Regions from separate parts of the Homo sapiens genome. Here region 2 is linked to region 1. Evidence: fine-mapped expression QTL. Tissue or cell type: whole blood. Region 1 holds a variant in brackets; the other region holds the start of a gene. All regions are shown on one strand. Distances are from middle to middle.

Region 1 (8,104 bases):
ATTTTATTTATTTATTTATTTATTTGAGACAGGGTCTTGCTCTGTCACCCAGGCTGAAGTGCAGTGGTACAATCATAGCTCACTGTAGCCTCGAACTCCTAGGCTCAAGCAATCCTGCCTTCTCAGCCTCCCAAGTATCTGGGACTACAGACATGTGCCACCATGCCTGGCTAATTTTTTTATTTTTTGTAGAGACAGTCTCACCAGCCCAGGCTGGTCTTAAACTCCTGGCCTCAAGTGATCCTCCCTCCTTAGCCTCCCAAAGTGCTGGGATTATAGGCGTGAGGCACTAGGTGCCCATCCCACATAGCAACTTCTGTGCTCTTTTAGCCTGAGGAACTAAGAATTCCTTTCAGTTGGCTTACTAGGGCCTTAAAGACTTAATTTGAAAAATGGGTGATTACAGTATACTACCACCCATTCCTCCAGCTCTCCCTGGTTGTTGCTGAAGGAGAATTCAGGTCTCAATTTACCAGCCCTTTATCTTGAGCCATGCAGTCAATTAAAATCAAAATTGAGGCCAGGGAGTTGTGTTCAGAGATTGTAATTCTGTGTACTGGAAGGATCTTTTCTTTGAAATTGACTATTCCGGCTCCTCCCTATGTTTGTAGTTCTTTGGCTGCATGCACTAACTGTCTTCCTGACTTTCTCTGCTGGAGTCAACCTTGCAGACCTGCTATTACTACCAGTGTGTAAAGTTGTGTTAGAAATGCTTGTTCCCTGGTGCTGTAAAGAAATAGCACTTAACATAAATTTAATTTTCTCAGCAAGGCCATTTTCACTTTCTGCAGAAAGGGTACACTCGCCAGCAGTTTTGCCACGAGAGTACACTGAACAAAGGAGACAGGGTCATTTATAATCTGATGCGTCCACCCTACTGCTGTGTCGGTTTCCATTGGCTGGAACAGGACCTCACATTCTGTATTTGTCCCAGTTGGCTAGCAACTTAGAACTTTTTAAGAGAGGCAAAGGCAGAAGAGGACAAAGGAAGGAGGAAGTAACTTGTGGAATGCTGAGAAAGGTAAAAACACCTTCAAATAAGGAAGAAGAACAGGCTATGACCTAATGCTTGCTTGGACCAGTAGAAGCATGGCAGGGCAAATATTTAGGCTAAATTGTGGGAACTAAGAACATAAAGTACATTGATTTCTTTATTATGGCTAGAGATATTTAAGAATATTAACACAGGTCTTTGAATAAATTTTGCTTCTAAGAGAAGTTACTATTTATTCCTAATTAGATGGGGAGGAAAGTCTTTGAAGAGGAACCTCTACTTTGCTTTTTACAATTGTTTCTTCTAATCTCAACTAGTTTCCCCTGAGGATTGGTAATGTCCAGTAGTGGCTAACCAACATTTACAAAGAGGAAGAGAGGGCTGTAACTTTGGAATTTTAATGGTAAAAACCAAAGGGATTTTAATGGTAAAAACCAATTGCCCTGTTCTAAGCCAGGGAAATTCCTTAACACAGGTTTCAAGATACCTCACCAGCTTTCCCCAGCCTTCCTCTCGCTCCAGCCCACCTTAATTTTTTTTATACTTCAGCTTAGACTGCTTCAGCTAGACAAACCTGATTGCCATTTCCTTTCCCATGCAACTTCCTTCTCTGAAAAATAGAGCTGGAGGAAGTTGAGACGCAGAAAAGAGAAACAAGTTACCCACACCACATTTTGGTCCAGGTTTCCTTCTCCAGCATCACACTTCTATTCCTACTTGAAAAAAGAAAAATAGCTCAGAGGGGTCTCTAAGTCACCCTCCCCACAACCACCTATATCCCCCAAACCCCACCTCCATGCCCCGGATGCAATTGTTTAAAGGGATTTTGTTCTTTATTTTCTTCCCTATAGTTTCCTGACTAGCTGCCTCACCCATTATCTTCATGTTCCTGGGATGTGTGATACAAATAACAATGTATAGCCAATCAATATCTTAGGTTATTTTTATGTAAATTCTTGGTAAATAGTTTAGGAACTGCCTTTTTCTTTTCCTTTAAAAGAAGGAAAAGGCTACTACCACTTGTACCTGTTAGAAGAAATAAAGTTCCAGAAAAAGAAAAGAAAAAAGAAAAACCCACTTGTAGGCAGGTGCAGTGACTCCCACCTGTATTCCCAGCACTTTGGGAGGCTGAGGGGGGTGGACCACTTGAGCCTAGGAGTTTGAGACCAGCCTGGGTGACATGGTGAAAGCCCCATCTCTATCAAAAATACAAAACTTAGCCAGTCTCATAACCCAGTCAATAAATAAATAACTAGATTAAAAAAAAAACACAACTGCTGCTACTGGGAGGATAGATTCAGGGCAACTTGAATCTATGCTTCTGGGTTGCAGTCCTCAAACTTGGCCCAGGTAAACTCTCCACTCAGAATGTATTTTCCTTTAGGTCGATATAGCTGGCGTAAGTCAGCAGGATTCAGAGTGAATCCCCCACAGCAACCACCCATTGTTTTTCTCTGAAGGCAGTGGTTGGTACTAGCACAAACCCATTGCGTTCTCCATCTTCAGAAGTCTCATTGGTGTTGCGGGTGAGTTCTCCTGAATCCAGACTCCCGTTTCTTTGGTGGAGGTCTAGACTTTGAGCGGTTTCTCTTTGACTCTCTCTGAATGAGGGTTCTGTCTCTGACTTTCCTGTTTAAGTCAGGAGATCAGGATATTTTTCTGGCAACTCACAGGTCTGGAGTTAGCAGTTTGCTTCCATTTTCGGCCAAGACATTGTTACATCATGACCTTTCATTTTGGAAATCAAACTTTTATGCATGACCAACCTCTCTTAGATTCCCTTTTTCTAATATATGAGAGTGGATTCTTCACTCCAAAGATAAAAGGCACTCGCTCCCTCCAGCCCGTTAGGGCACCCTAAACAATTAGCGACTTGCTGGGGGTATTGGGACTTTCGTGCCTTAAAAGGTTTCCTCTCTCAGGAGAACATCCGTAATCTCTCTCACTCTGCCAACAAGTGCACATAAAGGCTGGCCACTTAGCACTCGTGAGGACTTTGTGACCCTCTGGGGATCAATGTTTCTGAGACACATAAAAACGTGGACACAACTCAGTAGTGACACACTAAGGAGTCACACTCACAAGCAGCACATTTTGACCCAAAACACAGCCCAGAACTTGGCTGTGAGTGATTCAGGCCTCTAAATTATGGGTAACAAACCTATTCAAGTCTGAAGACTCTCTAACGACGCAGCCTCCCTTGGAAACATCGGCTGATATTCTGTATAACACTTACGGAGCTTTGTCTTGCAGACATTTGAACAAATGGGCCCACAGGACTTCAGATGACCCTAAATTACAATAGCCAAAACGGAGGTCCTTTGATAGATCAGAAAAAAAAAAAAAAGCTATTTTAGAACCAAACAGAATGGGAGACCTACTTTCTACTTGTCCTGGCTGAAATCTGATAAAAGATTTGAAAAGATTTTTTTAAAGAGCTCTATGGTTAGAAATCAGCTTAATTAAAAGCTGATATTCAGGGCATAATTTTTATTGACAAAAAGGGCCTTTCTGCTTTTTCTCCCTGGGATCCCGTTTCTGGGAATTCTTTTTCAGTCAACTGAAACTCCT[T/C]TTGAAAAAAAAAAGTTTAATCTCTCCATTTGCTTCCTTTCTTGTTGGCATGATTTTGCTGAGAAAAACGTAAAACTTCATTGGTCTTTCAGAAAATTTAAAATCTTTCCAAATTAGCCCCGCTAGGCCTTGTTCTTCCATTTCCTTCCACTTCCGCTCCTCCTTTCTTTGGCCATCTTTGATACCACGTGAAGAAATCTAGAGACTTCTAGCAGAGACTTCTGAGACCTCTTGAGGAACACAGGAAAAGGCACCACACACGCACACGCACACACATGCACGCTCACACACGCAAGCGCACACTCACGCACGCGCACATGCACGCGCATGAATATGCACGCACACGCATGCACATACGCACACAGACACGGACACACACACGGACGCATACACACGCAACCACACACGCACACACGCACGCACACGTGTGCACACACATGCACACACACACACACGCACACACACATGCTCTATTTTGTGGTCTTCTCTTTCTTTTGTGGAGTCCTGAGAATTGTGGGCATACTTTTCTCAGGTCTAAAGCTCTGCTCTCTTTTGCATTGAGTTTCCTGGTCTCTGGCTTTTGGAGTACAAAAGGATTACTTTGTATTGAGAGAGAATTTGACCTTTGTGTGTGCAGTGGCTGGCAAGTGACTGGCAAAAGCTGCAGTTTTAGAAGTAGCTGACAGCAAATGCAGCGAATGGTTATTACTGCAGGGGGCTACTTGTTTCGTTATGTGTTTAGATAAGAAAGGTGAAGTTCGAATGCTTGGAGGTTATGAAAACATTCTCCAACAAGGGGTAAGACCTCCTGTGGGGGATGGGCTGACCACAGAATGGGCTGATGTTGCAAGGAGCACTGTGGAAACATTGTGTGGCCCTGGACCCATGGCATTCTTTCCTCTTTTGGGGACCTGCGATTCAAAGTAAAAGTGGGATTCTTGATTTTTAAAGATCTAGATCACCTTCCCAGCTGTGCCTGCTTTTCACGTGTTTAATTATTAGGCCCTGAGAACAGCAAATACTTTCTTGGCCCTATTTGTTAATGGGCTCCACCCTAAGCTCAGTAATCCAGTTAAGAAATGGAAAACTAAATTTAAAAATCCACCTATCCAACTAGATTAGTCTTCAAAATACAACTTTCTGGCATTTGGCTGGCTACTTTGAAAAGGTTTTGGTTCGGGACAGGCAAGCCCCAAAATCGGGGCTTAGCCCGGGAGGGTTCCCAGCTTTGCCCAGGAAAGAACTCAGCAACTTTTACTGAAGTGGCCGTGTACAGCAGCAGCAGAAGGGCTGCTGCTGTGGAGCAGGGCTGCCCCAGAGTAGCTCAGAGTAGCAGAGTAGCAGCTCAGAGGTGGTTCTGCTCTCATCTTTATACCCACTTTTAATTATATGCAAATTAAGGGGTGGTTTATGTAGAACTTTCTAAGATGAGGGGAGTAACTACTGGGTCCTCCGGTTGTTGCCATGAAAGGGGGCAGTAACGGCTGGGTGTTGCCATGGCGATGGTAAACTGACATGGCACACTGGTGGGTGTGTCTTATGGAAAGCTGCTTCCTCCCTGGACCTGTTTGAGCTAGTCTTCAGTTTGGTCTGGTGTCCAAGCCCCACCTCCAGAGTTGAGTCCTGCCTCCTACCTCAGTTTCTGAATTTTTTTCTAGGCCCATCTATGTATTTCCTTGCACAACTTTCTAGTGAATTCCTATGATTTTGCATTACCTTGACATCCACTTTTAATCTTCCTTTAACACATGTAAACTCCTTCTTGAAAATGCGTACATTCTCTCTCCTTTGAGACGCAATTTGCTTCCCTGTTTTCTCTGAAACTCCATAAGGGCTTGTGAAAACTTTAATCTGTTCCATTTAGAGAGACAGAATTTAATCCAACTGTCCTTTTAAACTAGTGAGTTTTACCTGTCTGATGACAAATTTTAAACTCAAAGCTGTAAAAATCTTTTTTTTTTTTTTTTGAGACAGTCTCGGTCTGTCACCCAGGCTGGAGTACAATGGCATGATTTTGGCTCACTGCAACCTCTGCCTCCCAGGCTCAAGTGATTCTTCTGCCTCAGCCTCCTGAGTACCTGGGACTACAGGTGCGCACCACCATGCCAGGCTAATTTTTGTATCTTTAAAAGAGACAGGTTTTTGCCATGTTGGCCAGGCTGGCCTCAAACGCCTTACCTCAAGTGATCCACCTGCCTTAGTCTCCCAAGGTGTTGGGATTATAGGCGTGAGCCATTGCACACAGCCAAAGCTATAAAAATCTTAATTTGTGTCTGTGTCTATTTTTTTTTTTTTTGAGATGGAGTTTCGCTCTTGTTGCCCAGGCTGGAGTGCAGTGGTGCGACCTCGGCTCATCACAACCTCCGCCTCCCAGGTTCAAGCGATTCTCCTGCTTCAGCCTCCCAAGTAGCTGGGATTACAGGCCTGTGCCACCATGCTCGGCTAATTTTATATTTTTAATAGAGATGGGGTTTCTCTATGTTGGTCAGGCTGGTCTCAACTCCCGACCTCAGATGATCCGCCCGTCTCGTCCTCCCAAAGTGCTGGGATTACAGGCGTCAGCCACCATGTCCAGCAGTGTCTATTTTTTATGTGTATCTGTGTACATGCTGTGTTTTTATATTGTCTACATGATACCAAGTTGACTTATAAATAAGTGAGCACTCATAAACTAAGTAAATAAGCCCAAATGCTTTTCAGGTTCACACGATTTTTAGTAACCTTTGGTAAATAAAACTAGTTTTTAAATTGTTGTTAAAATTAAATTAGAAAGTTTGAAGACTAAATATAGTTCAAACATTTTTACGTGGTCTATTGGTCAAACAGATGTATACCGTCTCTGCTAGATGTTTTAAGATTATAAAACTGTTGCCTCAGCTGAGTGTGGTGGCTCACACCTATAACCCCAGCACTTTGGGAGGCAGAGGTGGATGGATTACTTGATTAGCTGGGTGTGGTGTGGTCGCACACACCTGTGATCCCAGCTACTCAGGAGGCTGAGGCACTAGAATTACTTGAACTCAAGAGGCGGAGATTGCAGTAAGCCAAGATCGTGCCACTGGGCTCCAGCCTGGGCAACAGAGTGAGACTCTGTCTCAAAAAGAAACCCCAAAAAACAACAAAAAAAACCCTGTTGCTTCTGTGATATTTTTGATACCTGCTGAATTTGTCTGTGACCTAAAGTGGTGAGGGCTGGCTGCTGGGCTTCCCCCAATCCTTGCACACATTTTACAGTGAGCTAACATCTTTGGTTTTGAGCCTTTAGGTTCTGGGGTCTAGACAGGTGGCCTTGGTGAGGCCTGAAGACATTGGCATGTCCATAGCACCAAGGACACTAGCTGCAGGGCAGGGCCAAACCCAATATGTCCTCCCTGGCCCAGCTGTGCCTCCTGGGGACATGCTGGGAAGGGTTGGCCTTTTTAGGCATCTTTACATCTTGGTCCTGTCCTGAGCTCTATACCTGGTATGTAAATTCAGGACCCAGATGGTCCCTGCCCTTTATAGCCATTCTGAGTGCCATATGGGTACTTGGGACCCAGGACAACTGAGGAACACATTGGGGAGGGTACTTGTATAATAATTTCAAAATTGCTTTCAGGAATTTAAACTCTTAAAATAATGTTATGTTAAGGCCAATTGCTATGATTTACATCTGTAATCTTAGCACTTTGGGAGGCAAGGAGTTCAAGACCAGCCTGGGCAACATAGTAAGACCCATCTCTAAAAAAGAAAAAAACAATTAGCCAGGCATGGTGGCATGTGCCTGTGGTCTCAGCTACTAAGGAGGCAGGGGTGGGAGGATTGCTTGAGCCTGGGTGGGTGAGGCTGCAGTGAGCTCTGATTGCACCACTGTACTTCAGCCAGTGCAACAGAGTGAGATCCTGTCTCGAATAATAATTGACCTTATTTGTGTAATCTGTTTTTTTTTTTTTTTTTTTTTTGAGACTGAGTCTTGCTCTGTCATCCAGGCTGGAGTGCAGTGGCGTGATCTCGGCTCACTGCAAGCTCCACATCCCAGGTTCACACCATTCTCCTGCCTCAGCCTCCCAAGTAGCTGAGACTACAGGTGCCCGCCACCACGCCCGGCTAATTTTTTGTATTTTTAGTAGAGACGGGATTTCACCGTGTTAGCCAGGATGGTCTCGATCTCCTGACCTCGTGATCCGCCCGCTTAGCCTCCCAAAGTGCTGGGATTCCAGGCGTGAGCCACCATGCCTGGCCGATTGCGTAATATTTTTAATTCTTAAATTGATTATGTCTTATGTTTCTAAGTGTCTAAAATGTGAATCAAAAAGTACCTGAGACAAGTCTCAATCAATTTAGAAAGTTTATTTTGCCAAGGTTAAGGACACACCTGTGACACATGTGCCCAAGGTGTTTGGGATATAGCCTGGTTTTATACATTTTAGGGAAATGTGAGACATCAATCAATATATGTAAGATGTACATTGATTTGGTCTGAAAGTCAGGACAACTCAAAGCAGGCTTCCAGGTCATAGGTAGAGAAGAGACAAACAGTTGCATTCTTTATTTTATTTT
Region 2 (8,104 bases), 64 kb after region 1:
ACCAAGAATTCTAGACTGGCCTGGGCAACATGACCAGCTCCTGTCTCTATTTTTTAAAAAAGAAGTGTATGGTTTCTTCCAACCTCTTGTACTTATACCATTCCCTCAAAGAGAAAGAGAATTAAGAGGAAATGTCTTAAACACAAAGGAATTTAATGTTATGGTGCCCTGGGTCTGAATGCTCTGAAGAGGGCAACATTCTGGAGGTGCCAATTTTCAGATGAGCATTTAAAATGTCAGCGTTGGGCAAACATTTTATTTTGTCTTGAACTCATCCCCCCTTAATATCTTGGGTACGACCATTCTCTACATTTTCTCTCTGTGCTACTAAACTTAGAGGATGCAAGTCAGGATTGGGAGGAGACTGATTTTGTGTGTGTTTGGCCTTTACTGCAGAAGAAAAAGAACTGCAACTAGGCCGGGCGCGGTGGCCCATGCCTGTAATCCCAGCACTTTAGGAGGCCGAAGCAGGCGGATCACGAGGTCAGAAGTTCAAGACCATTCTGGCCAACATGGTGAAATTCCGTCTCTACTAAAAATACAAAAAATTAGCCGGCTGTGGTGGTGGGCGCCAGTAATCCCAGCTACTAGGGGGGCTGAGGCAGGAGAATCGTGTGAACCTGGGAGGCGGAGGTTGCAGTGAGCCGAGATCGTGCCATTGTACTCCAGCCCGGGAGACAGTGCAAAAAAAAAAAAAAAAAAAAAAAAAGAACTGCAACTAATCAACATTTATTTAGTGAGCACAACTTATGTGAGGCACTATAACTTACATAAGTTGTGCTGAACTCATGGTGGCTTATAGTCTATTGGGGGAGGTATATATATCAAGGCGTGACTTGGTAATTACTTGGAGAAGGAGAAATGCAAACTGAAGTAGTTGGCCAAATATCCTAAGGTAGGGTCTTTTGGTTTTGTTAAAGAAGAATAAATTCAGATTCAGGAATGAATGTGGAGAAAACTGGGAATGAAACAGGCAGGAATGAGTAAGCTATCTGGGACAGTGCAAAGGCCTTTCTGACCAGATCAGACGGTGTGTGTGGGGGAAAGCACAACTGGATAGGTGGGGTGGGGCCGAATTATGGGGGATTTTTAAATAACCAGGCAAAGGAATGTGTACTTGATTTAGCAGACAGTGGAAAACTCTAAAGTGGTTTGTTTTTTTTACACAATCTCACTCTGTTACCCAGGATAGAGTGCAGTGGGGCAGTCTTGGCTCACTGCAACCTCCACCTCCTGGGTTCAAATGATTCTCCTGCCTCAGCCTCCTGAGTAGCTGGGACTACAGGCATGTGGCACCACGCTCAGCTAATTTTTGTATTTTAGTAGAGACGGGATTTTGCCGTGTTGGCCAGGCTGGTCTTGAACTCCTGGCCTCAAGTGATCTGCCTGCCTCAGCCTCCCAAAGTGCTGGGATTACGGGCATGGGCCACTGGGCCCAGCCTCAGAAGTTTTTAAATGACATGATTTTTTTTTTTTGGAGACAGTCTCTTTCTGTTGCCCAGGCTGGAATGCAGTGGCACCATCTCGGCTCACTGCAGCGTCCACCTCCTGGTGGAACCAGTGATTCGCCTGCCTCAGCAACCCGGGTAGCTGGGATTACAGGCACGTGCCACCATGTCTGGCTAATTTTTGTATTTTTAGTAGAGACAGGGTTTCACCATGTTGGCCAAGTTGGTCTTGAACTGCTGACTTCAGGTGATCCATCCACCTCGGCCTCCCAAAGAGCTAGGATTACAGGTGTGAGCCACCGCGCCCGGCCTTGTTTTTTTTTAATGGAGGAGTGGGGCACAGTTTTAGGGAGGTTGGTTCAGGAAGGGATGCAAGATAGATTAGAGGGCAGGAATTGATTCAGTTCTCAGAGAACTTCCCTGGAAAAGAAAGTCCTAGATCTTTGCCCCAAGCCCAATGCCAGGCTGAGGTATATTTCACGACCTTTCTGATTGAAATCTACTGACAGAAAATACACTGGATCTAAGATCTTGTGAGATCTTGCCCAAGCTCAACCCGGCCCACTAACCTTTTGTGTTCATGGCATGAAATGCCCACACTTGGTTCTGGTTTGGGCTGGCACCCTCCCCGGCTTGCTTCACTGTGGTGCGATGTTTCCAAAGCTTCCACACTCCAGAAAGGGCTATAACTTCAGTTTCCTCATTTTTACAAAAGGTCAAGTTTTCAAAAGCTTAGATCCGCTGGGATTTGTCTATGTTGATGAAGATACATGAAAACTGGGGGACATTGCAGTTGACCTTTAGAACCCTCTCTCCACCCCCACCCCCATCTCCATTACCCCAGAGCTAAGCCTCCTCAGGACCTAGTACTTCTCTTCATTCAGTGTTTTCTCACACTGCTGAAAATTACCTGTGACTCATACAAGTGGTTCAAGCTGCTCAGTCCCAGACAGGAATGTTGAGTCTTGCCAGCTGACATGTTGGGGTCACAAGAAAGAGAGAGCAAGTGTCCTGTGGGCTGGAATCAGGGGAGATGCACAGACACCCTGTGAACATTCCAGAGTGCAGGGCTGAAGAATGGCCTGAATGGAGCCGTTAGGCTGATTTCCCTGTGGTCAGAGGCTAGCTGCAATTTTACCCTCCCTTCCCTGCCCAAACACTCCTGACACTGGAATTTCATCAAACGGCTACCGTGTTTGGTTTTCAACCAGGACAAACAAAGAAAAGAGATTTGTTTTCCTGTCTGCTTTTGCTGAATGGAATCTCTGATTCTACTTACCAGCGTGCCTCAGACACCCTGGGGCTGGTTAGGACTTTAAGCACACAGGAATCTCAGCTTTACTCAATCTTTTTCCATATCCTGAGCCCGAGTTCAGACTTCATCCTCCCGGGTCCCCCATGTCCCTTCAACGTCTGATTAATTCTCCAGTCAACTCCCTGCTAATAGTCCACCCACAAATTGCTATTTCAGCTGACCTTCCCCAAAACTTGAGCATCCTTACCAAATACCTTGGGCTTCCTCATAACCTGGTTATCTTCTCATCTGCATGCCTTTCTGGAATAATTTTGAAGTATTAAAAAAAACTCCTCTAATTGTCAAGGGCATGCAGGAAGCTCAGCCCCTAAGGAGCATTGCAGAAATCTGGAGTTCTACTCTGTTTATACCTAAATCTAGCCTTCCAGGAGTTTCAGATAGTTTCCTGGAAACATTTTGTGCTTTGTGTTTTTCACCTTTCTCTCTTAATTGAATATGGGGTGAGGAGCAAGAAAGGGGATTGTGAATTACAATTACAAACAGTACACACATAACACAGGGACAATCTTTGCATTTCTCATTTCTGATCCCAGGGATCAGAGGTAGAGGCAGGCCAGGCGCGGTGGCTCACGCCTGTAATCCCAGCACTTTGGAGGCCGAGGCAGGCGGATCACGAGGTCAAGAGATAGAAACCATCCTGGCCAACATGGTGAAACCCCGTCTGTACTAAAAATATAAAAATTAGCTGGGCGTGGTGGCGCGCGCCTGTACTCCCAGCTACTCGGGAGGCTGAGGCAGCAGAATCGCTTGAGCCCGGGAGGCGGAGGTTGCATTGAGCAGAGATCACGCCACTGCACTCCCGCCTGGTGACAGAGGGAGACTCCGTCTCAAAATAAATAAATAAATAAATAAAAATTTAACAAAAAAAGGTAGAGGCAGCTCTCAGGTGAGTAAATTCGCAGATGCCCACGCATGTCTGGAACATACCCCAGGGGTCATTAGAGACTGCCCAGCAGAGGCGGGAGGATCTTCCGTTTGCTTTTCCTTCAGAACGTTTGTCCGGAGAGCATCCTGTTCTGTTATATGCATATCCACCTCCGTCTCCAAATTACTAGGTTGAGCACAGTGCTCAGTGCCTGGCATTGAGTTAGAAATAGAAAATGAGCTGGCGAGTCCCGGCCCGAGGCTGTGACAGGGGCCATTACTGAGCCCACTCCCCACCAACCTTTCTGCGGTTTAACTGACTCTCCTCCTTCCCCTCCAGATCCCAAGGGCTTGACTCCTACCTCCTCTAAGGCATTTTGAAAAGTTTGCAAATGCACCCTTGATCCTAGCACGTACTTAAGAAGCGGCTCCCCCCTAGAACGTCAGGCTTGAAGCTGACCCCTTCTTCCTCCTCCCGCGCCATTTGGGTCTGTGCGCAGGGCCGGAAGCCTGCTGGGGAGGGGCACGAGGCCGGGCTGGGGCCTCTCCGGAGGGAGCCCGCCGCCCCGCCCAGGGCGCACGCACCCAGCCTCTGAGGGAGGAAGCTGAATGGGGCCAGAGGCTGGCCCTCTTTGGGGATTTGCATTATACAGGCTGTATTTAGAAGCAGCGGCGGGGAGCGGTGGCTCACGCCTGTGATCCCAGCATTTTGGGGGGCCGAGGCGGGCAGATCACCTGAGGCCAGGAGTTCGAGACCAGCCTGTCAACATGGTGAAACTCCGTCTGTGCTAAAAATACAAAAAAAATTAGCCAGGCGTGGTGGCCGGAGCCTGCAGTCCCAGCTACTCGGGAGGCTGAGGCAGGAGAATCGCTTGAACCCGGGAGATGGAGCTTGCAGTGAGCCGAGATCACACCACTGCACTCCAGCCTGGGCAACTCAGCGAGACTCCGTCTCAAAAAACAAAACAAAACAAAACAAAACAAAAAACCAAGAAAAAGAGAATAAAAAAAAATAGAAGCAGCTTTCTTGCTGATAGAAAGCAATGACCCTCTCTGCTATAATTACAACTGAAGAGTCACTTTCTTTCAAAAACTCTATTTTCAGATGTTTACCACTTTCTTTAAAAAGGAAAAAAAATTTGCCTCAAAGGCAGGCAGTCCCCAGGGCATTTCTGGTCTCCTGGGGAAGGAACCTAAGAGCGGTTTGGTAAAATTCCATTTTGCTATCTTGGCGTTACCTAAGGGCAAGAACTGAGGTGGGGCTTTGGTGACAGCAGGGGCTGAAGAGTGCTCTTTTTCATCATCCAGGGTGTCCAATTGTTTTGTTTCCCTGGGCCACATTGGAAGAATTGTCTTGCCCCACACATAAAATACAGCAACACTAACAATGGCTGATACACTTTTAAAAAATCGCAAAGAAACTTCATATATATATATATATATATATATATTTTTTTTTTTTTTTTGAGTTTTGCTCTTGTCGCCGAGGCTGGAGTGCAACGGCACGATCTCGGCTCACCACAACCTCTGCCTCCCAGGTTCAAGTGATTCTCCTGCCTCAGTCTCCTGAGTAGCTGGGATTACAGGCATGCGCCACCAGGCCTGGTTAATTTTGCATTTTTAGTAGAGACGAGGTTTCTCCATGTTGGTCAGGCTGGTCTCAAACTCCTGACCTCAGGTGATCCACCTGCCTCGGCCTCCCAAAGTGCTGGGATTACAGGCGTGAGCCACCATGCCCAACCAAGAACTCATAATGTTTTAAGACAATTTACGAATTTGTTTTGGGCCGCGTTCAAAGCCGTCCTGGGCTGCACGGGGCCCACAGGCTGTGGGTTGGACAAGCTTGCTGGACTGTCATGAAGTTTTGAGTAGGTTAATTGCGTGGAGAGACCTGGAAGACAGGATCCTGGGTTGTACTGTACTCTCCCCGCCATTGGACCTGTGCTCCCTCCACCCAGGTGGCATCGCAGTGGCCAATGGAGAACAGAGCCAGACTGCCTCGGTGCAAATCCCAGGCTCCTAGTCCTGTGGACCACTTACTCCTTCGGTGAACTTGGGAAGCTGTTCATCCTTCCGGCTTCAGTTTTCCCACATGTAAAATGAAGATAATAATGGCACCTACCTCAGAGGATCATTGTGAGGATTAAATGAATTACCACAATAAGAGGGTATCATTGCCAGAAAGGGGTCCCGATCCAGACCCCAAGAGAGGGTTTTTCGGATCTTGTACAAGAACTCTGGGCTAGTCCATGAAGTAAAGTGAAAGCGAGTTTGCTAGACAAGTAAAGAAACACGAGAATGGCTACTCTATAGGCAAAGCAACCCTGAGGGCTGCTGGTTGGCTATTTTTATGGTTATTTCTTGATCATATGCTAAACAAGGGGTGGGTTATTCATGAGCTTTTTGGGAAGGAGATGGAGATTTTCCCCCTCCCCCAGTTGAGGACTCCTCCTTCTTTTAGACCATATAGGATAATTTCCAGGTGTTGCCATGGCATTTGTAAACTGCCATGGTGCTGGTGGGAGTGTCTCTTAGCATGCTAATGTATAATTGGCATATACTGAGCAGTGAGGACAACCAGTGGTCACTTTCATTGCCATCTTGGTTTTGGTGGGTTTTGGCAGGCTTCCTTACTGCATCCTGCTTTATCAGCAGGGCCTTTGTGACCTGTGTCTTGTGCTGACCTCCTATCTCATCCTGTGACTAAGAATGCCTAACCTCCTGGGAATGCCACCTAGCAGGTCTCAGCCTCATTTTACCAGCCCCTATTCAAGATGGAGTCATTCTGGTTCGAATGCCTCTGCCATAGACACGTATTATATATGCATTACCATGCTTATGTTTTTTGCTTTCCCTGTCTGTAAAATGAGGAAATGCTATTAACTGTTATGTTGGTCACTCTGTACCAGAAAAGCCAGGAAGAGTGTCCACTGTGTGCCAGACCCTTGTAGGTGACGCTGTGAGGAGACGCAGAAGAACGGAAAGACCTGGCTCCTTCCTATGTACTCTGAGATCTCTATGAGGAGGCTTCCCCCTTCCCCTCTAGGAAGACTCCTCATAGAGATCTCAGAGTACATACGAAGGGGAAACATCCACACCCAGTTTTCCCTGGTGGAAAGGTGTGACACAGAGGCCTGCCAGAGGCTCATGGCCCCTTCTCCACCCAGAGCAGCATCTCAGCTCAACCTGGGGATCCAGTAAAGCGGTGCAGGGATCCTGCAGGCTCTGGCAAACTCAGCCTTGACCTTTGGATCCAGCTCTCTGTCCCCATGGCCAGTCTTTTCACTCCCAGGCCTTCTGTCTGGCACAGGGTGTGAAAGAGGAGCCGGGGGCAGGGCGGGGAGGATGCGGCAGGGACAGGGACAGGACAGGAAGGACTTGGCCTAGCTGATTGAGACTTTTTTTTTCTTTTTGAGACGGAGTCTCGCTCTATCGCTCAGGCTGGAGTGCAGTGGCCCAATTTCAGCTCACTGCAACCTCCACTTCCCGGGTTCTCCTGCCTCAGGCACGCAAGTAGCTGGGATTACAGGCATGCACCACTGTGCCCAGGGATTACAGGCATGCGCCACTGTGCCCAGCTCCAGTTGAGATTTTGGCAGGGGTCTCTTGAGCAGCTGATGGGCTCCTGTCACTGCGCCCAAAGTCTGTCCCAGGCGAGTCTGGTTCCACTTAAGCCCAGGTCTGGGCACAGAGGTGCCACCCTTAATGTGTGTGCAGTATGCTGCAGCTGTACCCACGAAGTCTGCCCCTGCCTCTCATGAACACCCAACCCATTCGAGGCTCCAATAATTAGAATTTTCCTTGCTTCACTTTATCCATCTAAATCCTATCGAACTTGTCAAGGGCTACGTCAGTCTCACCTCCTCCATGAAGCCTTCTCTGATTGCCCAGCTGACATCAGTCTTACTGTCCTAAGTTTCCTAGTTCTCTATTTCATTCATTTAGAAATTAGAAAGTAGAAATGTACTTAATTATATTCTCAAAAAATATTTGAGCACCTGTTTGATTGCAAGGCAGGGAGGGTGGCTGTTGGGGCATCCATGAAAATACAGGACAGAATCTTCTAACAAGAAGCTTCAATTCTAAAAGGATGATAAAAATTCTAAAGGCATGGCCTAGAAAATTCCTTATTGCCATATATTGCTTTTCAGGTTGGATGCTATGATTTAATTCAAAAATAATAGTTAACAGTTATTAGGTGCTTGCTATGGGCCATTACTGTATTTAGCACTTTACACAAATTATTCTATTGAATTTTTTTTTGAGATGGGGTCTGGCTCTGTCACCCAGGCCGGTGTTCAGTGGTACAATCATAGCTCACTGCAACCTCGAACTCCTAGGCTCAGACAACCTTTCCGTCTCAGCCTTTTGAGTAGCTGTAACTGCAGGCATGTCTTACCACACCTGCGTACTCTTTTAATTTTTGTAGAGACAGGATCTCACTATGCTGCCCGGGCTGGTCTTGAACTCCTGGGCT

Evidence for each region. PIP is the estimated chance that this variant, and not a neighbour inherited with it, causes the effect.
Region 2: NINJ2-AS1 starts here. The variant in region 1 is fine-mapped to the expression of NINJ2-AS1 in whole blood (INTERVAL, PIP above 0.99).

What each region holds. Positions count from the first base shown.
Region 1 is chr12:691,108-699,211 of GRCh38, reverse strand. All of the region lies in intron 1 of LINC02455 (long intergenic non-protein coding RNA 2455), which reads left to right. All of the region lies in intron 1 of LOC101929432 (a long non-coding RNA gene), which reads right to left. Among named protein-coding and RNA genes, the nearest start is that of LINC02455, 21 kb to the left of the region's middle. The variant T/C (reference allele first, on the strand shown) is at 3,566.
Region 2 is chr12:626,871-634,974 of GRCh38, reverse strand. NINJ2-AS1 (NINJ2 antisense RNA 1) reads right to left here and starts at 4,084. Exons shown (of 5, transcript NR_122124.1): 1 at 3,990-4,084; 2 at 2,728-2,761; 3 at 2,359-2,466. The region is part of intron 1 of NINJ2 (ninjurin 2); the gene reads left to right. RefSeq lists silencers at 4,059-4,158, 4,219-4,298.